Linked DNA regions of Homo sapiens: region 2 is linked to region 1. Evidence: fine-mapped expression QTL. Tissue or cell type: whole blood. Region 1 holds a variant in brackets; the other region holds the start of a gene. All regions are shown on one strand. Distances are between the middles of the regions.

Region 1 (8,102 bases):
GACTATGACACCCTCTTTGGGGTTTTGTGGTTCCTGGTGTCTTCCAAGCTTCCAGTTGCCACCACCACATTTCCCTCACCCAGATGTGGGTGCCCACAGCAGAAGCCACGCACAGTACATCTGGTCCAGCTGCAGCCTTGCGTGGCGCCAGCACCAGTGCCAGCACTGGAGCTGCCTGCCCTACCACAGCCGTCAGCATGCCTGGCTGTGTACAGTGGCTAGACCCCACACTTGCTTGCCCACACACCCCTCACCACTCCACACCTGGCTCATGCTTGGCAGGTGTAAGACATAGCATAGTAGTGCGAGCCAAGCACAGCCTGCCAGGCCAAGTGCGGAGAATGTGCCCAGCAGTGTGAACAATACTCAGGCAGAAGGTGCTGCTGGCCACAGTGGTTTCCAGCTTGCAAACTGACACCCTGAGGATCCTGTGACATTTTTCTTTCTTTTCTCTTCTTCTTTGTTTAAGACAGGGTCTTGCTGTGTCACCCAGGCTGGAATGCTGTGGCACTATCACTGAAGCCACGACCTCCCAGGCTCAGGCGATCCTGCCACCTCAGCCTCCTGGATAGCTGGGACAACAGGCACATGCCACTACACCGGGCTAATTTTCTTATTTTTATTTTTGTAGAGACTGGGTCTCACTTTGTTGCCCAGGCTGGTCTCCAACTCCTGGATTCAAGGGATCCTCCTGCCTCAGCCTCCCCAAAGTGCTGGGATTACAGGCATGAGCCACTGCGCCTGGCCAGATGTACTTTTCCCTATTTCTCCTGCTAAGTATAATTCAGCCCACTGGAAAATATATATAAAACAAATGTAAGAAGAATCTGAAAGATGTAGAGAAGAACGTAGATTAGCTAGAGATCTAGGGACCTGAGGAATTATGCTGTGGTGCAATCACTGGGTTTTCTTTTTCTCTTGCATATACAGACTTGGAGCTGAAGAAGTCAGCTACCCAGGAACAATGGACACAGACAAAAAACCCTAACAAGAGCTTTTCTCACTAGCTAAAAACCCAGTAGAGGTGAAGCCTAGCAAAAGAGAGAACTTTTAAATAATAACCATTCTACTCCAGCCAACCATCACAGAAAAAACTAGACCCACTCACACCAACACCAGCAAAGGCCAAGTGAGGAACCCAGGACTTACTTTCATCTCTGCTGGCTGATAAAGTGCTATCCCTTCCTTGCGGCGTCAGTGAAAGTCTAGCGAAGCCTACCTAGACTATCCAGCAAAACAAAATGCCCCTCTCTCTCCCAGCTACAGGTTACAAGAAAATATTTGCAAACCTCATATCCAACAAAGGTCTTGTATCTGCTAGCCTTACATCTAACATATATACTAACATATATATACAATTCACAACAGTAAAAAGGGAAAAAAAAGACAATCCAATTAAAAAATGGGCAAAAGAGGGACAGGAGCCAAGATGGCCGAATAGGAACAGCTCCGGTCTACAGCTCCCAGCGTGAGCCACGCAGAAGACGGTGATTTCTGCACTTCCATCTGAGGTACTGGGTTCATCTAACTAGGGAGTGCCAGACAGTGGGCGCAGGTCAGTGGGTGCGCGCACCGTGTGCGAGACGAAGCAGGGCAAGGCATTGCCTCACTTGGGAAGCGCAAGGGGTCAGGGAGTTCCCTTTCCTAGTCAAAGAAAGGGGTGACGGACGCACCTGGAAAATCGGGTCACTCCCACCCGAATACTGCGCTTTTCCAACCGGCTTAAAAAACGGCGCACCACGAGATTATACCCCGCACCTGGCTCCGAGCGTCCTAGGCCCACGGAGTCTCGCTGATTGCTAGCACAGCAGTCTGAGATCAAACTGCAAGGTGGCAGCGAGGCTGGGGGAGGGGCGCCCGCCATTGCCCAGGCTTGCTTAGGTAAACAAAGCAGCCTGGAAGCTCGAACTGGGTGGAGCCCACCACAGCTCAAGGAGGCCTGCCTGCCTCTGTAGGCTACATCTCTGGAGGAAGGGCACAGACAAACAAAAAGCAGCAGTAACCTCTGCAGACTTAAATGTCCCTGTCTGACAGCTTTGAAGAGAGCAGTGGTTCTCCCAGCACACAGCTGGAGATCTGAGAACGGGCAGACTGCCTCCTCAAGTGGGTCCCTGACCCCTGACCCCTGAGCAGCCTAACAGGGAGGCACCTCCCAGCAGGGGCACACTGACACCTCACACGGCAGGGTATTCCAACAGACCTGCAGCGGAGGGTCCTGTCTGTTAGAAGGAAAATTAACAAATAGAAAGGACATCCACACCAAAAACCCATCTGTACATCACCATCATCAAAGACCAAAAGTAGATAAAACCACAAAGATGGGGAAAAAACAGAGCAGAAAAACTGGAAACTCTAAAAAGCAGAGCACCTCTCCTCCTCCAAAGGAACACAGTTCCTCACCAGCAATGGAACAAAGCTGGATGGAGAATGACTTTGACGAGCTGAGAGAAGAAGGCTTCAGACGATCAAATTACTCTGAGCTACGGGAGGACATTCAAACCAAAGGCAAAGAAGTTGAAAACTTTGAAAAAAATTTAGAAGAATGTGTAACTAGAATAACCAATACAGAGAAGTGCTTAAAGGAGCTGATGGAGCTGAAAAACAAGGCTCGAGAACTATGTGAAGAATGCAGAAGCCTCAAGAGCCGATGCCATCAACTGGAAGAAAGGGTATCAGCGATGGAAGAAGAAATGAATGAAATGAAGCGAGAAGGGAAGTTTAGAGAAAAAAGAATAAAAAGAAATGAGCAAAGCCTCCAAGAAATATGGGACTATGTGAAAAGAACAAATCTACGTCTGATTGGTGTACCTGAAAGTGATGGGGAGAATGGAACCAAGTTGGAAAACACTCTGCAGGATATTATCCAGGAGAACTTCCCCAATCTAGCAAGGCAGGCCAACATTCAGATTCAGGAAATACAGAGAACGCCACAAAGATACTCCTCGAGAAGAGCAACTCCAAGACACATTAATTGTCAGATTCACCAAAGTTGAAATGAAGGAAAAAATGTTAAGGACAGCCAGAGAGAAAGGTCGGATTACCCACAAAGGGAAGCCCATCAGACTAACAGCGGATCTCTCGGCAGAAACCCTATAAGCCAGAAGAGAGTGGGGGCCAATATTCAACATTCTTAAAGAAAAGAATTTTCAACCCAGAATTTCATATCCAGCCAAACTAAGCTTCATAAGTGAAGGAGAAATAAAATCCTTTACAGACAAGCAAATGCTGAGAGATTTTGTCACCACTAGGCCTGCCCTAAAAGAGCTCCTGAAGGAAGCACTAAACATGGAAAGGAACAACCAGTACCAGCCGCTGCAAAATCATGCCAAAATGTAAAGACCATCAAGACTAGGAAGAAACTGCATCAACTAATGAGCAAAATAACCAGCTAACATCATAATGACAGGATCAAATTCACACATAACAATATTAACTTTAAATATAAATGGACTAAATGCTCCAATTAAAAGGCAAAGACTGGCAAATTGGATAAAGAGTCAAGACCCATCAGTGTGCTGTATTCAGGAAACCCATCTCACATGCAGAGACACACATAGGCTCAAAATAAAAGGATGGAGGAAGATCTACCAAGCAAATGGAAAACAAAAAAAGGCAGGGGTTGCAATCCTAGTCTCTGATAAAACAGACTTTAAACCAACAAAGATCAAAAGAGACAAAGAAGGCCATTACATAATGGTAAAGGGATCAATTCAACAAGAAGAGCTAACTATCCTAAATATATATGCACCCAATACAGGAGCACCCAGATTCATAAAGCAAGTCCTGAGTGACCTACAAAGAGACTTAGACTCCCACACATTAATCATGGGAGACTTTAACACCCCACTGTCAACATTAGACAGATCAACGAGACAGAAAGTCAACAAGGATACCCAGGAACTGAACTCAGCTCTGCACCAAGTGGACCTAATAGACATCTACAGAACTCTCCACCCCAAATCAACAGAATATACATTTTTTTCAGCACCACACCACACCTATTCCAAAATTGACCACATACTTGGAACTAAAGCTCTCCTCAACAAATGTAAAAGAACAGAAATTATAACAAACTATCTCTCAGACCACAGTGCAATCAAACTAGAACTCAAGATTAAGAATCTCACTCAAAACCGCTCAACTACATGGAAACTGAACAACCTGCTCCTGAATGACTACTGGGTACATAACGAAATGAAGGCACAAATAAAGATGTTCTTTGAAACCAACGAGAACAAAGACACAACATACCAGAATCTCTGGGACACATTCAAAGCAGTGTGTAGAGGGAAATTTATAGCACTAAATGCCCA[C/A]AAGAGAAAGCAGGAAAGATCCAAAATTGACACCCTAACATCACAATTAAAAGAACTAGAAAAGCAAGAGCAAACACATTCAAAAGCTAGCAGAAGGCAAGAAATAACTAAAATCAGAGCAGAACTGAAGGAAATAGAGACACAAAAAACCCTTCAAAAAATTAATGAATCCAGGAGCTGGTTTTTTGAAAGGATCAACAAAAGACTGCTAGCAAGACTAATAAAGAAAAAAAGAGAGAAGAATCAAATAGACACAATTAAAAATGATAAAGGGGATATCACCACCGATCCCACAGAAATACAAACTACCATCAGAGAATACTACAAACACCTCTATGCAAATAAACTAGAAAATCTAGAAGAAATGGATAAATTCCTCGACACATACACTCTCCCAAGACTAAACCAGGAAGAAGTTGAATCTCTGAATAGACCAATAACAGGATCTGAAATTGTGGCAATAATCAATAGCTTACCAACCAAAAAGAGTCCAGGACCAGATGGATTAACAGCCGAATTCTACCAGAGGTACAAGAAGGAACTGGTACCATTCCTTCTGAAACTATTCCAATCAATGGAAAAAGAGGGAATCCTCCCTAACTCTTTTTATGAGGCCAGCATCATTCTGATACCAAAGCCAGGCAGAGACACAACAAAAAAAGAGAATTTTAGACCAATATCCTTGATGAACATTGATGCAAAAATCCTCAATAAAATACTGGCAAACTGAATCCAGCAGCACACCGAAAAGCTTATCCACCATGATCAAGTGGGCTTCATCCCTGGGATGCAAGGCTGGTTCAATATATGCAAATCAATAAATGTAATCCAGCATATAAACAGAGCCAAAGACAAAAACCACATGATTTTCTCAATAGATGCAGAAAAAGCCTTTGACAAAATTCAACAACACTTCATGCTAAAAACTCTCAATAGATTAGGTATTGATGGGACGTATTTCAAAATAATAAGAGTTATCTATGACAAACCCACAGCCAATATCATACTGAATGCCCAAAAACTGGAAGCATTCCCTTTGAAAACCGGCACAAGACAGGGATGCCCTCTCTCACCACTCCTATTCAACATGGTGTTGGAAGTTCTGGCCAGGGCAATTAGGCAGGAGAAGGAAATAAAAGCTATTCAATTAGGAAAAGAGGAAGTCAAATTGTCCCTGTTTGCAGATGACATGATTGTATATCTAGAAAACCCCACTGTCTCAGCCCAAAATCTCCTTAAGCTGATAAGCAACTTCAGCAAAGTCTCAGGATACAAAATCAATGTACAAAAATCACAAGCATCCTTATACACCAACAACAGACAAACAGAGAGCCAAATCATGAGTGAACTCCCATTCACAATTGCTTCAAAGAGAATAAAATACCTAGGAATCCAACTTACAAGGGATGTGAAGGACCTCTTCAAGGAGAACTACAAACCACTACTCAAGGAAATAAAAGAGGATACAAACAAATGGAAGAACATTCCATGCTCATGGGTAGGAAGAATCAATATCGTGAAAATGGCCATACGGCCCAAGGTAACTTACAGATTCAATGCCATCCCCATCAAGCTACCAATGCCTTTCTTCACAGAATTGGAAAAAACTACTTTAAAGTTCATATGGAACCAAAAAAGAGCCTGCATCGCCAAGTCAATCCTAAGCCAAAAGAACAAACCTGGAGGCATCACGCTACCTGACTTCAAACTATACTACAAGGCTACAGTAACCAAAACAGCATGGTACTGGTACCAAAACAGAGATATAGATCAATGGAACAGAACAGAGCCCTCAGAAATAATGCAGCATATCTACAACTATCTGATCTTTGACAAACCTGAGAAAAACAAGCAATGGGGAAAGGATTCCCTGTTTAATAAATGGTGCTGGGAAAACTGGCTAGCCATATGTAGAAAGCTGAAACTGGATCCCTTCCTTACACCGTATACAAAAATTAATTCAAGATGGATTAAAGACTTACATGTTAGACTGAAAACCATAAAAACCCTAGAAGAAAACCTAGGCATTACCATTCAGGACATAGGTGTGGGCAAGGACTTCATGTCTAAAACACCAAAAGCAATGGCAACAAAAGACAAAATTGACAAATGGGATCTAATTAAACTAAAGAGCTTCTGCACAGCAAAAGAAACTACCATCAGAGTGAACAGGAAACCTACAAAATGGGAGAAAATTTTCGCAACCTACTCATCTGACAAAGGGCTAATATCCAGAATCTACAATGAACTCAAACAAATTTACAAGAAAAAAACAAACAACCCCATCAAAAAGTGGGCGAAGGACATGAACAGACACTTCTCAAAAGAAGACATTTATGCAGACAAAAAACACATGAAAAAATGCTCATCATCACTGGACATCAGAGAAATGCAAATCAAAACCACAATGAGATACCATCTCACACCAGTTAGAATGGCAATCATTAAAAAGTCAGGAAACAACAGGTGCTGGAGAGGATGTGGAGAAATAGGAACACTTTTACACTGTTGGTGGGACTGTAAACTAGTTCAACCATTGTGGAAGTCAATGTGGCGATTCCTCAGGGATCTAGAACTAGAAATACCATTTGACCCAGCCATCCCATTACTGGGTATATACCCAAAGGACTATAAATCATGCTGCTATAAAGACACATGCACACGTATGTTTATTGCGGCATTATTCACAATAGCAAAGACTTGGAACCAATCCAAATGTCCAAGAATTATAGACTGGATTAAGAAAATGTGGCACATATACACCATGGAATACTATGCAGCCATAAAAAATGATGAGTTCATGTCCTTTGTAGGGACATGGATGAAATTGGAAATCATCATTCTCAGTAAACTATCGCAAGAACAAAAAGCAAACACCGCATATTCTCACTCATAGGTGGGAATTGAACAATGAGATCACATGGACACAGGAAGGAGAATATCACACTCTGGGGACTGTGGTGGGGTGGGGGGAGTGGGGACGGATAGCATTAGGAGATATACCTAATGCTAGATGACAAGTTAGTGGGTGCAGCACACCAGCATGGCACATGTATACATATGTAACTAACCTGCACAATGTGCACATGTACCCTAAAACTTAAAGTATAATAATAAAAATAAATAAATAAAAATAAAAATAAAAAAAGAAAATGGGCAAAAGATACAGACATTTCACTTAACAGGAGAAAGAGACTGGAAACAGAAATATTAAAAAATGTGCAACATCAAAAACCATTAGGGAAATACACATTAAAAACTTAATAAGATACCACTACATACCTATTAGAATGACTAGAATAAAAATAGTGACAGTATCAAATGCTGGTGAGGATATGGAGTAGACGGATTACTCACACACTGCTGGTGGGAATGTAAATGATATAACCACCCTGGAAAAAGGTGTGGCCTGTCTTTCAAAAAACTAAACATGCAACTACCACATGACCCAGCAATTGCAATCCTGGGCATCTACCCCACAGAAACAAAGACATATTCACACAAAAACTTGCATATGAATGTTTACAGCAGCTGTACTGGTAAAGCCAAAAACTGGGAAACAACCAAGATGTCCTTCAATAGTGAATATTTAAACTGTGGTGCATTCATACTTTGGAATACTATACATCAATAAAAAAGAAAAACTACTGATACATAAAACAGTCTGGATGAATCTCCAGATAAGTATGCTGAGTGAAAAAAAGGCCAATACAATAAGGTTGCATACTATATGTTATCATTTATATGACATTCTTGAAATTACAAAGTTATAGAAACAAAGGAACAAAT
Region 2 (8,102 bases), 97 kb after region 1:
CTCCTTGTATCATTGTAAATCTACCTTTAATACAGAAAATCATCTATATATTCTATATATTATCATATATTCTCTCAGGTAAATAAGAAAATATCTAATTTTTCTCAGGGGAAAGAAAAAACTGTGGGGAGGAAAAAATACTCTGGGCTCTCAGAAGTAAGATTTTCTATTACCCATAGATAGTTCACGATTAGAGGCCGGGCGCGGTGGCTCATGCCTCTAATCCCAACACTTTGGGAGGCTGAGGCAGGCAGATCACAGGTCAGGAGTTCAAGACCAGCCTGGCCAACATGGTGAAACCCCATCTCTACTAAAACTACAAAAATTAGCCAGGCGTGGTGGTGGATACCTGTAATCCCAGCTACTCGGGAGGCTGAGGCAGGAGAATTGCTTGAACCCAGGAGGCAGAGGTTGCAGTGAACCAAGATCGTGACACTGCACTCCAGCCTGGGCAACAGAGCAAGACTTCATCTCGGCGGGGGAAAAAAAAGATAGTTCATTATTAAACAGGAAAATAATTTTCTCACATTGGCTGTAGTAAAAGAGGGTTAGCTTAAAAATTCCTCCTCTGGGTCCCTATCTCTCACCATATGCAAAGATTAACTCAAGATAGATTAAAGATTTAAATGTAAGGCCCGAAATTATAATAATCCTAAAGAATACTTAGGAAAAAAGTTTATGATTAAGACCTCAAAAGCAAATGCAACAAAAATAAAAACAGACAAATGGAACTTAATTAAACTAGAAGAGCTCCTGCACAGCAAAATAAACTACCAACAGAGTAAACAGACAACCTACAGGATGGGAGAAAATATCTGCAAACTATGCATCTGACAAAGGACTAATATCCAGCATCTATAAGGAACTCAAACAAATCAACAGGAAGAAAAAACAAATAACCCCACTAAAAAGCGGGCAAAAGACTGAACAGACACTTCTCAAAAGAAGACATACGAGCGGCCAAAAAACATGAAAAAATGCTCAACATCACTAAGCATCAGAGAAATGCAAATTAAAATCACAATGAGATACCATCTCACACCAGTCAGAATGGCTATTATTAAAAAGTCAAAAAACAGATGTTGGCAAGGATGAGAAGAAAAGGGAACACGTATACACTGTTGTTGGGAATGTAAATTGTTCAACTCCTATGGAAAGCAGTATGGAGATTTCTTGAAGAACTCAAAACAGAACTACCATTTGACCCAGCAATCCTACTACTGGGTATCTCTCCAAAGGAAATTAAATCATTTCATCAAAAAGACATCTGAGCCAGGCACACTGGCTCACACCTGTAATCCCAGCACTTTGGGAAGCCAAGGCGGAGTATCACTTGAGCCCAGGTGTTCTACACCAGCTAGACGCCATTAAAAAAAAAGAAAAAAATCTGTGCTCATATGTTTATCACAGCACCGTTCACAATAGCAAAGTCATGAAATCAACCTAAGTGTCCATCAACAACTGAATGGGTAAAGAAAATGTAGTATGTATTAATATACATTGTGGAATATTATGCAGCTATAAACAGAATGAAATCCTGTCCTTTGCAGCAACATGGATGGAGCCTGGAGGCTATTTATCAAGTGAAACAATTCAGAAACAGAAAATCAAATACCACATGCTCTCACTGGTAAGACAAGTGGGTACAATGGGTACACAGAGGCATAAAGATAAATGGGTACAATAAGTACCCACAGACATAAAGATGGAAATAAACAGACACTGGGGGCTCCAGAAGGAGGAGAGAAGGGCTGAAAAATTACCTATCAAGTACAATGTTACACTATCACGTACAAAGGTATATTATTTGGGTGAGAGGTTCACTAGAAGCCCAAACCTCACCATTATGCAATATATCCATGTTAATTACGTGCATATGTACCCCCAAATCTAAAATTAAATTAAAATTTTGTTTAAAAAACTCCTCCTCTAGGCTTCAAGATAAAGTTTGAATATTAATAGTTATTCAAGCAAGAAGTCACAGGACAAAATAAAAGTTAGAAGACCTAGTCAACAAGTGTGGCTTTAATTATGGTCTCTATGTAAATGACTTACAACTTGAAATCTCTAGCCCAGCCTTCTCCTTCAATCTTCAAAACCAAACTCATAATCTTAAGACTCACCCAACCAATTCCACCACCCACTCACAGCCACCACCTCCACCATAAATCTGGCCATATCTTAATATTGGCACAACCATTCAAACAATAACCTAACACCTGGCTACTTCACCTTTCACATCCCATCCGTTATTAAGTATGATGATTTTGCCTCTTAAATATCTCTCAAATCAGTCCACTTTTCCCTGTATCCACCAACACTTCCCTATTCCAAACTTTCATCATCTTTTGCCGGGCAATGCTGCAATGGTCTCCTAATTTATGCCCTTGACCTATGGCTACTGCTCCCCATCCCACCTTGCTATCACAGCTGTTCCACACTCTGCTATACACCTGACCTTTCTGAAACACCTAACTTATCATACATCCCCTCGTTTCAAATATTTTCTTCAACTCCCCAAAGCTCCAGAGATAAAGCCCCTAAATCCTTGGCATAGCACACAAAGCCTTGCAGTCTGTGCTCAAACCACGTTGGCTTCTGGGTCCTGGAAAATGCCATGCTCTCTCTCATCAACAGTACCTTTTCATGTGTTTTTCCCTCAGCTAGACGGCTCTTTCCCTCCCCTTTGCCTGATTAACCTTAAACTGTCTTCAGATATCAGCTCTATCATAACCTCCTCAAGAAGGCTTTCCCAACTTCACTGACAAGGCCAGATTATCTTACTTTATGCTTTCATAGAATATTAGCACATATATTAGTTTCACTTTATGTGATCATCTGAAATCTGTCTGCCTCCCTGTCTAGACCATGAACACAAGGAAGGCAGAGACCAAAAATGTTTGGGTTCACCAAGCTTTCCTTAGCACCCAGCACAATGTGTGGCACATGGTGAATTCTAATAATACATGTTCAATGAATTAAGTACCCCCTGGAATATTCACCAGACAAAACAACAACTACTGCTCATTAGTGACAAAACTCTACACCTTCACTGTCTGTGATGATGGAACTGTTCCATTATCTGCTCTGTCCAACATGGTAGCCACTAGCCTAGTGTGGCTGCTGAGCACTTGAAAACCGGTAAGAACAGACGCATGGAATTTTTCATTTAATTTATTTTTAACTCTTACTCAAAACTATAATAGTTTTCTCTTTAAGATGTAAAAAGCCACACGTGGCCAGTGGCTACTGTACTGAGCAGGGCAGGTCTTGCTCCTCGAAAAGCAGTAAGTTAAAAAAAGGGGGGTAAGGGCAGCAAATTAAATGGAGAGTTATTTTCAAAATGATCTTCGGGGGTCTACCATGAAATCGGCTTTCTCCATTGTGTATTATCTGTGCTTTGTAGTTTTGCAGACTGTTTGGAGCCGCATCACAAGCCTCCTGCATTCCAAGCCCCTCCTATCGGCTGGGGAACCCCTTTATTGCTACAAATGATGGTCCAGGGGAGGAAAACCCGCGGGGAGCCTCTCCAGACTAAGTGATCGCGCGGTGTACATTATCCACATTACTCCCTCAGGGGAGTCCTGCAATTCAGTCAAGCTCATCTGTTCACTGTCTCCCCAACAAGATGCTCCCCAGGCAACCACTCGCTCCGGTCCTACACCGCCTTTTCCCTCCTTCAAGGCTCGACACACCCGTGGTCCTCTCTCAGCGTTTCTCACGGGGAATGCAGGCTCCCCTGAACGTCTACGGGAGTTCAAAAGGCCCAGGACCCACCGAGGGGGAGGAAACGAGAAGTCTTTGCCACAAAGCCTGGGAGACGCGGAGCAGCCGGCCGGCACCTGGGCTGGAGTCTGGGCCGCCTACTAGCCTCAGCTGCGCGCGTTTTCTCCGTCAGGCGGCGTGACCTGCGGGCGGGCGGAGCGCTCGGGGCCCAGCCTCCACCCCCAACTCGCCGCGGCTCCACACCCCTCCCCGGCCCGCCTCACCTTCTCCAGGGAGGTCCGCTCGCCCTCCGAGTAGCGGTGCTGCGGGGGCGACAGCGGAGGCAAAATCCTGCCGGGGTGCGCCTGCAGCCAGGCCTTGGCCTCCTCGTCCTCCTCGTCGTCTATACTTTCCAGATGCTGGGGCCCGTAGTGAGAGTCGGAGTCCAACTCCCGCCCCGCCTCTTCCTCCACCTCCTCCACGACCACTACGTCGTCCACGTTCGCCGCCGCCGCCGCTGCAGCCTCCTCCTCTTCCTCCTCCTCCTCCTCCTCCTCCTCCTCCTCCTCCTCCAGCTCGCCCGGCCATGGCAGATCCTCGGGCTCCATGTTGGTGTCTCGCTCTGGGCGGCAGAGGAGGAGGAGGAGGGGGGGAGGGAGGGGAAGGGGAGAGCCCTGACTGGCGGTTGTGGCCCAGCTTAGGCGCAGTGCCGCCCGCCTGGGCGGGGCCGGAAGACCGCGCGCGCGTTGCTAGGGACGCCGCGCGAGGCCCGGCGGGAACGCCTTAGGGCGGAGGTTTGCTACAGGCGACGTTGCCGCCTCGCCGCCGTCACCGGCCGGGACCTTGCGAACTGTACTGTAAGCTCACAATAAACCGGGACTGGGCGCCTTCCGGGGCGCAGAGGGCCCCGCGCAAGGACAGTGTAGTTCTCGGCTGGGGTCGAGTTTCGCCCCTGCACAGAGAAGAGATCAAACTCTAGGACGTACCCGTTATAATCACACATGCAAATTATAAAGTTTTAAAGGTTGAGTATCTCCTAAAGTGTCAAGCTGTATGGTGGGCGCTTGAACCTAACCGTGGAAAAGTGTCACGGGTTGTTAGAGGGATTAAGAACTGGGCACTGGCATCAGAAAGATCGGAGTTTGAATCCTGGCATCACCACTTAAAGTGGTGTGACTTTGTGTTTATAAAACGATGATAATAGGCCATCGCATAGGATGGGTGTGATAATTAAAGGAAATAATCAATGTGAAGGACTTAGTGATAGGTTGGTTATTGTACAATAACTCATTAGATGCTCACGGTTCTGTGAGACAAGTATTACTATTTCATGTATGAAGAATCTGAGGCTAAAAAAATTAATTTGCCCAAAGTTTCTTACCTAGTAAGTGGCTGACTCAGTATGCCATCCCAGGTCCTCTGTTAGTGTAGGAATTGCCCTGGCCTAGACCAACCAGCTGTTAAAGGATAACAGAGCAAATATTTATACTGATAGTACATATGTTTTGGTGGTTCGTCAATGACTTTGGAGTGCTTTAAAAACAAAGATTTCCTGACCGCTTCAGGAACCTCTACGAAATGAATGGCAAATTAAAGTATCTTAAGATGCCATGTAACCAGACACCACCTGTACCCCCAATAACCTATGGGGAAAATTTTTAAATTAAAATTTTAAATAATAATTATAATCTTGAGATGCTTCACTGTTACCAAAGGAAATAGCCATAATTAAAGTGGAGTCCAGCAAAAAGTCTTCATGGTATTACCCACAATAGTAGAGATACATTGATAATGATGCTGAACCAATGTTGGTGGGGCAATTTTAGGGTTATTGCCAAGGATGTATGTCCTGCCTACCTGTCAATGACCCAATCCTGGCAAAACTTTAAGGGTAGAACATGAACTGGAGCCCAGTCTTGGAGTTCTGTTGAACACCTCTAAATGGACTATGAGTACATTAGGGTTATTTATTCTTAAGGGGTTTAGGGGTTCTCCTTGCCGGAGACCTATTACTGTAATAGTAGAAAAGAATTTATTAATTTTGTATTCCTGAATGTGAAATCTCAATGTTTATCTCCAGTAAGAGGACACACATTTCACTGATATTAAATAACTGTAAAGCTTTACCTTTTTAGAAACTCCGCTATCTTTTTGCATCCACAAATTTCAGGAAAGATAAAGAGAACTAATAGAATTCTAAAAAATAGCTTTCAAAGTTCTCTAACTTCCATCTAACTTCCAAAGCCCAAAGTACTTCTATTTGCCTTGATGGCAATAAGGTCAGTCCATTCTAAGGCCCATAAGTTATCTCCTTCTGAGTTAATAACAGGCTTCCTCATGTATTTGTGAATTACTTCCAATACTAGATGCTACTAATATAAGCTGTTATCACTAATTGCTGCAGGAGACTTCTAAGATTAACTCCTGCTTTATCAACAACAGATGGAAGCTGCATTCTCAAAGCACCCACCTAAGCAGCTTCTGAAGTTAGAGATTTGGTCTTCTGAAAAAGCATTAGAAAACAATTTCCCTTGAGCCTCAATGCAAGAAAAAAAAATGTCAGGTACTATCAACAACTGACCCAGGAGTAAAACTAGAAGACATTGATCCCTGGATTCATATTACACAACTAAAAAGACATGCATCATTTTCTCCTGGCTACCGGACATCCCATACTATTGGAAGACCTCAAACTGAAGATTCCTGGGACTTCCCCAGAAGCTGCTTACTGCAGAAATGGGCAGTTTATACCCAAGACAACAGGACAAGATTAATTTCTGATTCCTTGGCATCTCTTACCCTACCACTAATCTTGCTTATTGCATTTTGACACCCTTGATTAACTAACAAATTGATTTCTCGGGGAGATAACCCTTATCTTCATCCTGTTACTTTTGACTCCCTATGTTCTACTACTTAAAGTAAACATTATTTGGCCAGGTGCAGTGGGTCATACCTGTAATTCCAGCACTTTAGAAAGCCAAGGTGGGAAGATCACTTGAGACCAGGAGTCTAACTAACGTAGGCAATGTAGCAAGACCCCCATCTCTAAAAACAATAAAAAATTAGCTGGGCATGGTGGCACGTATCTGGAGTCCCAGCTACTCAGGAGGCTGAGGCAAGAGGGTCCTTGAAGCTCAGGAGTCCAAGACTGCAGTGAGCTGTGATCGTGCCAATGGGCAACAAAGTGAAACCCAATCTAAAAAAGAAAGAGAGAAAGGGAGAAGAGAGAAAGAGAAAGGAAAGGAAAGGAGGGGAAAGGGGAAAGGGAAAGAGAAAGGAAAGGGAAGGAAAAAAAGAAAAGAAAAGAGACACTTTCTGGAGTGTTTTTCTCAAACCGTAGCTACTGCTTTTAAGGAATTGTTGACAAAATTTAATAACTGTGCTTTCATAGACTTCATCAAGTAGATTTTCTTCTGTAGGTCACTTCTGGTACTTAAGCATTCCCCACAAAGTTCATCCCAAACCTCAGTCTTCTAAAAATTGGACCTTGACCTACACTTCAACAGAATGTTTCCCTGAAGTCATTACAATCCTATGAGAAAAACCTAGCCCTTCAGGAATAGAAACTAATATTGGGGCTATTCTTTATACACTACTCAGGTCATTCTCTTCCAAAACATTCCAGCCTGCTTTGGAGAAACCTGTTTAACTTCATCCAAGAAATCTGCTTATCCTGAGGGAAAGAAAGTTGGCTTGTCCCTGATGTGCTAAATAGCCCTTATCCTCCCAATGCAGTCTGTACTCCCCTAGGGTACTACTTATTTATGGGAACATCTGGCTTGCCCACTAACTTACCCTTTATATTGAAGCTAATTGTTAGAGACCCTCCAGTGCTTAAAATTACCACCCCTCCAGTAGACTGTGTTTCTTTGAAAAGAACACCCAGAAACCAACAAAATGAAGCAAGCACACAATCACAGACTACTTGGGAGAACTCCCAGGAGGGATAACTGACTCATTTTTCATGTGTACTCTGTGAATGAAATTCCTACAACAAAGATAATACAACAGAAAGAGATCAGATCCAAGAGAGGTATTTGACCTTAGCAGACCCCATAGATAGCAAAACTTCTGCTATAGCAGCTCAGAAAACCACTTAAATTTGAATTCCTTAGCCAGAGTTTTCATGGATAATTATATAACCCTTGATTTCTTCTTAGCTGGCCAAGGAGGAGTTTGTATTTAGCAACACTTGTCACCATACTCACATACTACTGGGCCAGTAGAACATACTACAGAGTCAGTAGAACATGAGTAAACTGAAAAGAGAAAATCCTCCTGGCTCCCTAAAAACAGACTCAGCTGGATTCTGGGGCATGTTTTCATTGCCAGGACTTTATAATCTGGGTCCCTGTCTTCAAGACTTTTTACAAAGATGGATAATCATTTTGTTT

The links. PIP is the estimated chance that this variant, and not a neighbour inherited with it, causes the effect.
Region 2: ALMS1 starts here. The variant in region 1 is fine-mapped to the expression of ALMS1 in whole blood (INTERVAL, PIP 0.92).

The regions. Positions count from the first base shown.
Region 1 is chr2:73,479,412-73,487,513 of GRCh38, reverse strand. The region is part of intron 9 of ALMS1 (ALMS1 centrosome and basal body associated protein); the gene reads right to left. Among named protein-coding and RNA genes, the nearest start is that of ALMS1-IT1, 26 kb to the right of the region's middle. RefSeq lists an enhancer at 175-694. The variant C/A (reference allele first, on the strand shown) is at 4,314.
Region 2 is chr2:73,382,080-73,390,181 of GRCh38, reverse strand. It overlaps ALMS1 (ALMS1 centrosome and basal body associated protein), which reads right to left and starts at 4,346. Exons shown (of 23, transcript NM_001378454.1): 1 at 3,990-4,346. The coding sequence starts at 4,313. LOC105374804 (a long non-coding RNA gene) reads left to right here and starts at 4,501. Exons shown (of 4, transcript XR_007087053.1): 1 at 4,501-4,729. RefSeq lists enhancers at 3,558-3,797, 3,838-4,587 and silencers at 3,858-4,027, 4,188-4,587.